Linked DNA regions of Homo sapiens. The protein of the gene in region 2 interacts with the protein of the main gene of each other region in a pairwise test. Each region holds a gene or a part of one and is shown on either strand. Other genes may lie near its edges.

The links.
Region 1: the proteins of SENP2 (region 2) and FUNDC1 interact in binary tests that used the Homo sapiens proteins (3 or more experiments, as listed by UniProt).

What each region holds. Positions count from the first base shown.
Region 1 is NC_000023.11:44,525,054-44,530,262, forward strand, and holds part of FUNDC1 (FUN14 domain-containing protein 1), read right to left. Parts: intron 2,313-5,209; coding exon 2,184-2,312; intron 1-2,183. UniProt on the Homo sapiens protein: Integral mitochondrial outer-membrane protein that mediates the formation of mitochondria-associated endoplasmic reticulum membranes (MAMs).
Region 2 is NC_000003.12:185,612,794-185,618,002, forward strand, and holds part of SENP2 (sentrin-specific protease 2), read left to right. Parts: intron 1-551; coding exon 552-615; intron 616-1,770; coding exon 1,771-1,947; intron 1,948-4,686; coding exon 4,687-4,818; intron 4,819-5,209. UniProt on the Homo sapiens protein: Protease that catalyzes two essential functions in the SUMO pathway.

The sequences.
Region 1 (5,209 bases), on a different chromosome or scaffold from region 2:
AAGCCATCAGACAAAGCCAGACTGTGGGATATTCTGCCTAGAGGTGTCAAAAATGTCAGTGCCATGAAAGATGGGGGAATAAAATTAACAGATGAAAGGACTGTTTAAGACTAAATGAGACTTCATAGACATGATAACCGAAAACAATATATAATTTTTTTTGGGGGGGTGAGTGGGAACAGGGTCTCATTCTGTCAGCCAGGCTGGAGTGCAGTGGCACAATCACGTCTCACAGCCTCAAGCAATCCTCCCACCTCAGCCTCCCAAGTAGCTGAGACTATAGGTGCATGCCACCGTTCTAATTTTTGTATTTTCTGTAGAGACAAGGTCTCTCTCTCTTACCCAGGCTGATCTCAAACTCCTAGGCTCAAGAGATCCTCCTGCCTCAGCCTCCCAAAGTGCTGGGATTACAGGAGTGAACTACTGTACCTGGCATATAATTCTTAATTGGGAAAAAAAAAGCCACACAAGATATTTTGTAGAAAAATATTAATATGAACTGCATATTAGAAAATACTGGCTGGGTGTGGTGGCTCAAACCTGTAATGCCCAGCACATTGGGAGGCTGAGGCAGGCAGGCTGCTTGAGCCCAGGAGTTTGAGACCAGCCTGGCAACATGGCAAAACCTCATCTCTACAAAAATATAAAAATTAGCTGGGCATGCACCTGTAGTCCCAGCTACTTGAGAGGCTGAGGTGGGAGGATCACTTGAGCCCAGGTGCTCGAGGCTGCAGTGAGCTGTGATCACACCATTGCACTCCAGCCTGGGTGACAGAGCAAGACCCTGTCTAAAAAAAATTAACAAAGAAAGGAAATACTATTATCTCATGTTACATTTTTTTTTTATTAATAATGGCATTTGGCCAGGCATGGGGGCTCACGCCTGTGATCCTGGCACTTTGGGAGGCCGAGGCATCATGCACACCTGTAGTCCCAGCTACTTGGGAGGCTGAGGTGGGAGGACCATTTGAGCCAGGGGAGTCAAGGCTGTAGTGAGCCATGATGATGCCACTGCATTCCAGCCTAAGCAACACAGCGAGACAGAATGAGACCTGTCTCAAAAAAAACAAAAAAAAAAAACAAAAAAAAACAGTTGGCCGGGCCTGGTGGCTCACGCCCCTAATCCCAGCACTTCGGGAGACTGAGGCGGGTGGATCATGAGGTCAGGAGTTCGAGACCAGCCTGGCCAACATGGTGAAACCCTGTCTCTACTAAAGATACAAAAAATTAGCTGGGAGAGGTGGCGCGTGCCTGTAATTCCAGCTACTCAGGAGGCTGGGGCAGGAGAATCGCTTGAACCCGAGAGGCGAAGGTTGCAGTGAGCCAAGATTACGCCACTGCACTCCAGCCTGGGCTACAGGGCGAGAACCCGTCTCAAAAAAGAAAAAAAAAGTTTCTGAAGTGGCAGTTCCCACACAGTAAAAAAATAAAAAAGGGGGGGGGGCGTATTCATAGTTGTATAAGAGAATATCTGTACTCTTAGAAGATACATACTGAAGTATTTAGGGATGAAAAGTTATGACATCTTAAATACTTTGGAAAAAAAATTATCTGTGTGTGTCACCCACACACAGATAAAGTAAACACGGCAAATCATGAACAATTTGGTGAATAGATGAAGGGTATTGAGATATTCACTATATTTGTCTTTCAACTTTTTAACTGGTTTGAATTTTTTCAAACTAAAAAGTTGAGGGAGGTAAAAGGATAAAACAAAAACAAAGGCAAGGAAGTATTCAATTCCATTTTAAACAGTACAAAAGTAAAGGGTCAAATTACACCTGAAAACATTAATAAAATATATTAATCATATTAAAAAAACATATTTTCAAACTATCCTCAAGAAAAAAAATGTGTACTTTTAAGTTTTACTACACCTGTACATGTTCATTTATAAAGGCAGAGGAAATATGTTGAAAAGAATGTTCTTAGTTTTTACAACAAGATCAAAGTGAGCTAGAGATATGCAGGGGAATCTATGATAACCACCAAAAAAAAAAAAATAATGACTGATTTAAGTAGTGGTGTGATCTCAAATTTTACTTAACACTCTAGATATATAACCAAAAACACCATTTTTAAAAAAGACAGTAATCCCCCCCGGTCACATTTTCTGCTAAGGGATACCCATTAACCAAAAAAAGGAAAAAAAAAAAAAAAGTCAAAATTATATATCATCTTACTTCTTCAATTAAATTGTTGATTTCAGGTGCTGCTTTGTTCGCTCGTTTCTTAATCTGTCTTTTTGCTTTATTTACATCTTTTTCAACTCTCTTCCAGTCAATCTGCACATAGCCACTATGACTAGCAATCTGCAAAAAATATAATAAAAATTATCAATACTATACCAACTAGGTTGCTGACTATAATAGCCAAGAATATATAAACACTTAAGAGTTCTAGTAACCTATAAAACTTATAGCTAAGAAATTGCTTTTTCTCCACTAGTTTATTCATTTAACAGACACTAGTGCCTACCCTATGCTAAGTACTGAATAAGGGAGACATAAGCCCCTATCCTCAGAGAGCTTCAGGTCTGTTAGGGAAAACAGATATTAAGCATAAGTAAGTAACTAATTATTTAGATGTGATGAACAGTGTTTAGTACATGATGGGAAAATGATTCCAAAAACTGTCTTTTAACTATACTATCATTCTGTCACACCTTTTGGAATAGGGAATTAGTTAAAAAGATACAGAGATTATCTAGATTATATAGCTAATTTAAAAATACTTTTTAATTAAATAGATCTTTAATTATAAGGGATCATAAGCCAATCAGTTATTAGATCACTAAAGAAATTTAAGTAGCCTGGTAAGTATTTAAATAGCTCTCTTTACTTAAATTAAGAATACTTTCTGGTAATTGCTTTTGAAAGTAGAATATAAAACAAACTGCACTCTACACAAGTTTCATGCCATAAATCCTTTTAATAAAACTATAGCTAAATGCCTATCATAAGAAAAATTATCATATGGTACTACTGAGAGACTGCAATATCTGAACAGGAACAACAGTGTGTGTGCAAGCCAGTCCAGTAACTCAGTGCCTCCAAATAATAAAATAGCCATATATACCATTATAAATCACTTCTGTCAAGCTTATGCTTTCTTTGTAATTTTTTAGTGCATCACTTTTCTTTTGCCATTTGCACCCTGAATGAACACACTGACTTTTAGCCACACAGAAAATACTTTAAATAATAAAAATATCTGATTTTGCATAAACAGGCTGACTAGAAATCTTAGGTTCTATTTTGTCTGTGAATGACTCCATAGAAGAATTTGTTTATCTGCATTTCTTCTTGTATTTATTCATCTACTATCACTTCAAACTCCAGCCTCAGCAAAACAGTGGTGATCAAATCAAATGGCAAGTGAAGGCTTTTTCTGTTAGTACTTGATACAGCAATTTGAGTCACAGGCATGGAGGTGATGATGAACCTTAGGAAAATTCTACATATAAATTGAAAAGACTTCTTATTGGCTTGCACTAAGTAATCAAAATAGTTGATTACTTTGAAGCTTTTGCAGAATTTTACTTTTTGCTGAATCTTAACATTTCTTCTTAATCCAAAGCTTGTGAGAAGTACAAATATTTTATGTATGTATATGGCTTTATTTTTTGGTTAGAACAAAATTTTTTTTATTTTTGTTTTTTGAGACGGAGTCTCGCTCTGTCGCCCAGGCTGGAGTGCAGTGGCGTGATCTCTGCTCACCGCAAGCTCCGCCTCCCGGGTTTATGCCATTCTCCTGTCTCAGCCTCCCGAGTAGCTGGGACTACAGGCACTTGCCACCACGCCCGGCTGATTTTTTGTTTTTTAGTAGAGAAGGGGTTTCACCGTGTTAGCCAGGATAGTCTCGATCTCCTGACCTCGTGATCCACCCGCCTCGGCCTCCCAAAGTGCTGGGATTACAGGCATGAGCCACCGCGCCCGGCAGAACAAAAATATTATCTATACCACCACTCATCAGCAACTCCCAATTCAACTGTCATTTTCAAGACTTAACATTTTAAGTTACAAAGTTTTTTTTAAAAAGCTAATCTTCATGCCATGAGTTAAATTGGAAGTGAAATTAAAAAAACAAAAAACAAACCTTAACTATATTCCCTGGGTGAGACCCCTTATCCACCCCCCAATCCCCAGCAAATGAATAAAGGAAACCATTTTAATGAGACAGATTAAACAAATTCTCACAAACAGCATTCTATACACAAAATATTTTTACATAGCCATTTGTCACTGATAATTAGTAAACCCAGTGTTATCTGAGATAAAGATTTTGTATAATTTAAAGAATTCTCTACGTTTTGGGGGAAAATGTCAAACAGTTGCAAGGAAAATGAAAAACCTTGAGATGCTAAAGATACTAACGCCTCTTTGGAAGAAGACTTCCCTAACACCTCCAAGCAGACAGAGCGTCTTCCCTCTGCTCTCTCAGCACTAAACACACCCTTCTAGCTCAGCACTGACCATATGGGCTGTGAATCTCTATATCCCTAGAGTCCCAACTAATGCCAGATGAATGAGACATAGTAAATAAATGATAACAAAGACAATGAATAAAGACTAAATCTCAAAAGCTGTATTAACCAACCTGGCTCAAATAATGACTCTCAGCAACAAAATGGATGAGCTAGATTATCCCAAAGGACCCAACCTAGCATGTCTACTAACAAGAGAATGATCTTTGATGCTGGAGTGATCTACCATCACTGAACAAATTCCCTTGAGAATCTGTTCCCTTGCAGGAAAAATGAAAAACCTTGAGATGCTAAAGATATTAATGCCTTAAAAAAGAGAGAGAGAGATGAAGTCTCACTATGTTGCCCAGGCTGGTCTTGGACTCTTGGCCTCAAGCCATCCTCCTGCCTTGGTCTCCCAAAGTGCTGGGATTACAGTGAGCCACGGCACCCAGCTGAGAAGTACACTTCTGATCAAACCGAAGAATACCAGTCTAAATTGAGCACCCTGCTCCAGTACAGAGATGACCAAGGACAAGCAATCTGCCCCAAGTGGGGTTCAGGTACAACCAACTTAACCAACCAATACATACAGGACCCAATTCAGTCTTGTCCACACAAAATTCATCTGCAACTACAAGGAAATGCAAGCCAACAGACTGGGGAGGGAATGGGGCAGTGATGACTGCTTTTTGAACATTTGACTTCCTATAACACTAAAATATTTAATGGGATTACATAAGG
Region 2 (5,209 bases):
ATAGGTAGCTAGCTGTTGTGTCAGATGCCCACCCTAGCCTGGTGGGTTGAGGGGGGTGCCCCTTATCTCCCAGGCGTCAGGGGTTGGGAGAAACACATGCTTCTTAGATGGGAGTTTGGTTGGAGTGGGGATGTCTAGTGTCAGTGTCTTTAGGATAGGAACAGTAAAGGCAGCTCTGCATGCTTTAGGATTTTGGGATGATGGTTTATAGCAGAGTTTGTAAACTATGGCCCATGGGCCAAATCTGGTCTACTTGCCTATTTTTGTATAGTAAATTTCTATTGGAACATGCGAATTCATTTACATACTGTCTGGCTGCTTTTAAATTACAGTGGCAGAGTTGCCACGATGTGCCCAAGACCATAAAACCTGCAAAGCCTAAAATACTGTCTGTTCCTTTTCAGAAAAGTTCGTTGACTCCTGGTTTAGAGTATTATGTAAACTCAACACAATTTTTATGTACAAATTACGAAATCTTATTTCTAAAACTAGGATGTACTAGGTTTGAATCATCTAGCAGAAGTCTATCATCTCTCAATTTTTTTCCTTAGGTGTTCAAAGGGGAAAATTACTGATACAGAGACGATGGTCGGAATCAGATTTGAAAATGAAAGTGTAAGTAAAAATCCTAGTTACATTTGATACCTGTTTACTTATGTAACTTATGTTTTGGTGCCCATGAAAAGCAAGAAAAAGTATATATATATAACTTTGATTGTTAATTCTGTTGTTTTTCTTTAAAAAAGCAGCAAGCCAGCCAGTCACAGTGGCTCATGCCTGTAATCCCAGAACTTTAGGAGGCCAAGGCAGAAGGATCACTTGAGCCCAGGAGTTTGAGACCAGCCTGGGCAACATAGTGAGACTGTCTCCACAAAAAAATTTAAAAGTTAGCCAGGCATGGTGGCATGTCTGTAGTCCCAGCTACTTGGGAAGCTAAGGTGGGAGGATTGCTTGAGCCCAGGAGGTCAAGGCTGCAGTGAGCTGTGATCACACCATAGCACTCCAGCCTAGGTGACAGAATGAGACTCTGTCTCAAAAAAAAAAAAAAAAAAAAAGGCAGGAAGCATTGAAAATACACAACTTTTTTCTTCCTTCTGAGTTGTTGGAGTTTTGCCTCTGTACAGTAGCCACCTTTGTTTATGAGAGACCAATCTGCCTCCATACCAACATGTTACCTACATTTTATGGCTTCTTAGGGAGAATTTCTTAAAAATCATACATCTCTGGAAAGAGATGATATGTTCTGGGTTGCTGGCAGAATTCTATTTGTTTACTACAATTGTGGTTATATAGGTGTTCATTCAAATTAAGTGGTACATTAATGTTTTGTGCATTTTCTGTAATATCAAATGACTTTTTTCAAGGATAAACTAGAACCAAGTTGAGTTACTATAAAGATAGTAGGGATTTATTCTGAGTGATGGGATTGTGGGTCATATTTTTTGCTGTTTAAAACTTTCATAATATCTTTTAAACATACTAATTTTAATTGTGATAGGAGAACTGAAAATACTTTTCTTGCTACTTCCAGGGAAGGTGGTGAGTGTTCTGTTTGATGGTTCATAACTGAGGGTCCTGTGAGGCCTAGGTCTGGAGCTTTTTTTGCTCCCCCTTGCAGGGACAGACAGATAGGGTAAATCTACTCACTTGGGGGATTTGCTAATTCTCTTTTCTTTCACATTAGTGGCAGTTTTATATTTCATGTGTAATCTGTGTTTATATTTGCAAGTATCAAACATGTCAGTAGAATTTAGATAATTTTTTGATCAGAGGAGGGGATACCAACTGGAGCCTGACCTATCAGAAGAAGTGTCGGCCCGACTCCGCCTGGGCAGTGGAAGCAATGGCTTACTCAGGAGGAAAGTGTCAATAATTGAGACAAAGGAAAAGAATTGCTCAGGCAAAGAGAGGGACAGAAGAACGGACGATCTCCTTGAACTTACAGAGGTATTGTTCTTTGTATTGATCCTAAAAAGAGGCATGTCTTTAAATAACCTCAGTTATTCTAACTTGAATGTTTTGTTTTGAGGACTTTCTCCAGGCTAGGGGTGAATATATGAAAACATGTCAGGTCCATGGTCTGTTGATTCACTTTGACTACATTGATCTTTAGTGAGGCATGATCATTAGTGGCCTAAGGGATCAGATTGATATTCAGCAAATGGGGAGTCGACACAGTCATCTCATATCTTGGAATACAACAGATTCTTTGTAAATTCTAACCTTCAAATATGTTGAGTTATATAGTATGGGTTTGGCATTAAGAATAAGTTCATTGCATTTTTTTTTTGAAAGTTATTATAGTTTACTAAAATGCCCCCTTTGTTGATTATTGCATTTGAAAATAGTAAAAACTTACAGAACATAAAGAATGAAGGTAGTTAAAATTCTTATTTTAAAGATGTGCCCACATCTTGGCTTCCTCCACAATGTTGCCCTAGTAGGCAAATCTCTTGAATACTTACTGTTATATTGGGCATGTAGGTGGAGAGAGAGATCCATAAAATGGTGAAGCTGTGTGCAGTGGGAAGCAGCATATATTTAGAAGAAAATAATTTCTTTTTTTTGAGACAGAGTTTCGCTCTTGTTGCCCAGGCTGGAGTGCAATGGCGCGATCTTGGCTCACTGCAACCTCTGCATCCTGGGTTCAAGTGATTCTCCTGGCTCAGCCTCCCTAGTAGCTGGGATTACAGGCACCTGCCACCATGCCCAGCTAATTTTTGTATTTTTAGTAGAGACCGGGTTTCACCATGTTGGCTAGGCTGGTCTCGAACTCCTGACCTTAGATGATCTACCCACCTCGGCCTCCCAAAGTGCTGGGATTATAGGCGCAAGCCACTGCCCCCGGCCTAGAGGAAAATAATTTCTATTGGGTTTATAGATTTAGTTTTGTATCTTAAATAATGCATTTATCTGCATAATTCTTTAGTATGATGAAGCCATTTATTCCATAAGGAGTCAATTGCTAGACTGCTGGGTGGTTTCCAAGTTTCTGCCTGTTTGCTTATTCTCTTCATGTCAAAAAGGATGGTGTGACCCCTTAGATGTCCTAATCTTATTTTGATGTTTTATTTATTTATTTATTTTTGAGATAGAGTCTCGCTCTGTTGGCAGGCTGGAGTGCAGTGGCACAATCTCAGCTTACTGCAACCTCTGCCTCCCAGGTTCAAGTGATTCTTCTGCCTCAGCCTCCTGCGTAGCTGGGACTACAGGCGCGTGCCACCACGCCCAGCTAATTTTTGTATTTTTAGTAGAGATGGGGTTTCACCATGCTGGCCAGGCTGGTCTCGAACTCCTGACCTCATGATCCGCCCGTCTTGGCTTCCCAAAGTGCTGGGATTACAGGCGTGAGCCACCACACCCAGCCTTTTTTGATGTTTTAAAAGTTTAAAGGCGAGAATGGGCGTGGTGGCTCACGCCTGTAATCCCAGCACTTTGGGAAGCCAAGATGGGCGGATCATGAAGTCAGGAGTTCGAGACCAGCCTGGCCAGCATGGTGAAACCCCGTCTCTACCAAAAATACAAAAAAATAGCTGGCATGGTGGTGTGCACCTGTAATTCCAGCTAATCAGGAGACTGAGGCATGAAAATTGCTTGAACCTGGGAGGCAGAGGTTGCAGTGAACTGAGATCATGCAGCTGCATGCACTCCAGCCTGGGTGACAAAGTGAGAATCTGTCTCAAAAAAAAAAAAAAAAGAAGGGCCAGGCTGGTGGCTCACACCTGTAATCCCAGCACTTTGGGAGGCCGAGATGGGCAGATCACGAGGTCAGGAGATCGAGACCATCCTGGCTAACACAGTGAAACCCCGTCTCTACTAAAAATACAAAAAATTAGCCGGGCGTGGTGGCGGGCGCCTGTCATCCCAGCTACTCGGGAGGCTGAGGCAGGAGAATGGCGTGACCCCGGGAGGCGGAGCTTGCAGTAAGCCGAGATGGCGCCACTGCACTCCGGCCTGGGAGACTGAGCGAGACTCCGTCTCCAAAAAAAAAAAAAAACGTTTAAAGTGGAAATCAGGAGTTTACTATTATGAAGGGAGCAAAGTCCAGGAAATTAGATGCACCTGGGTTCAAATCTTCTTCTACCTTTTAATAATTATATGACTTTGAATATGTAAAATAAATTCTCTGGGTTTCAATTTTCTTCTCTATAAAATGATAATAATGTCTTCCTCACTAATATGGATCAATGATGTGCTTCAAGCATCTAACACCATGTTTGACTCATAGTGGTTAATACGTAGTAGTAGGAAAATTGAGACTATACTTTAGATGTAAATATTATTATTAAATTATTGTTTCCACAAGCTAATAAGTGAACCAGGATTTGTTGTAAGTATTACTTACAACAATTAAGTAAGGCTGCTTTGTAGTTATAAGTTAAAATATTTTCAGGGCTGGTGCAGTGGCTCATGCCTATAATCTCAGCACTTTGGGAGGCCAAGGCAGGTATTGCTTGAGCCCAGGAGTTTGCAACCAACTTGGGCAATATAATGAGGCCCCATCTCTATCACTAAAAATAAGAAAAAAATGTTTTCCTACTGTAGTTTAGTAGGTCTTTGATAGTATATTTTTCTCAAGAGTCAGGTGTTGCCGAGATGAAAAACTTTTTTCAGTCTCGGAGTTTTCAATAACTGATAATGAATGGTTCTATATTAAAATAGCAACTTCTGAACTTTCTAATTCAGGACATGGAAAAGGAAATCAGTAATGCCCTAGGCCATGGCCCACAGGATGAAATCCTAAGTAGTGCTTTCAAATTGCGAATTACTCGAGGAGATATTCAGACATTAAAGAACTATCACTGGCTCAATGATGAAGTAAGTTGTATTCCCTCCCCCTTTTGGCTATCATTAAGTTTATTTATTTATTATCTATAATCAAAGTGACTCCTACCCAGTTATAATGGGTTGGTAATGCAACTCTTAGTTATAATTAAAACAAAAACATTTTAAATCTTAAAAAGATGGTTAGTTCTGATTTTCTGCCTTTGATTAGCGATGTTTCCCTTTTCTGCGTCTGTATTTTATTGCATCCACCACTTCATTTACTGGTCTTCAATAAACCCTGGGTACAGCTGATAAACGGGAGGAAGCAGCAAGTGATACTGTATTTTAGGTGAATTCTTATAGTAGCTATTTTTTTGTTTTTGTTTTTTGGTTTTGTTTTTGAGACAGAGTTTTGCTCTTGTTGTCCAGGCTGGAGTGCAAT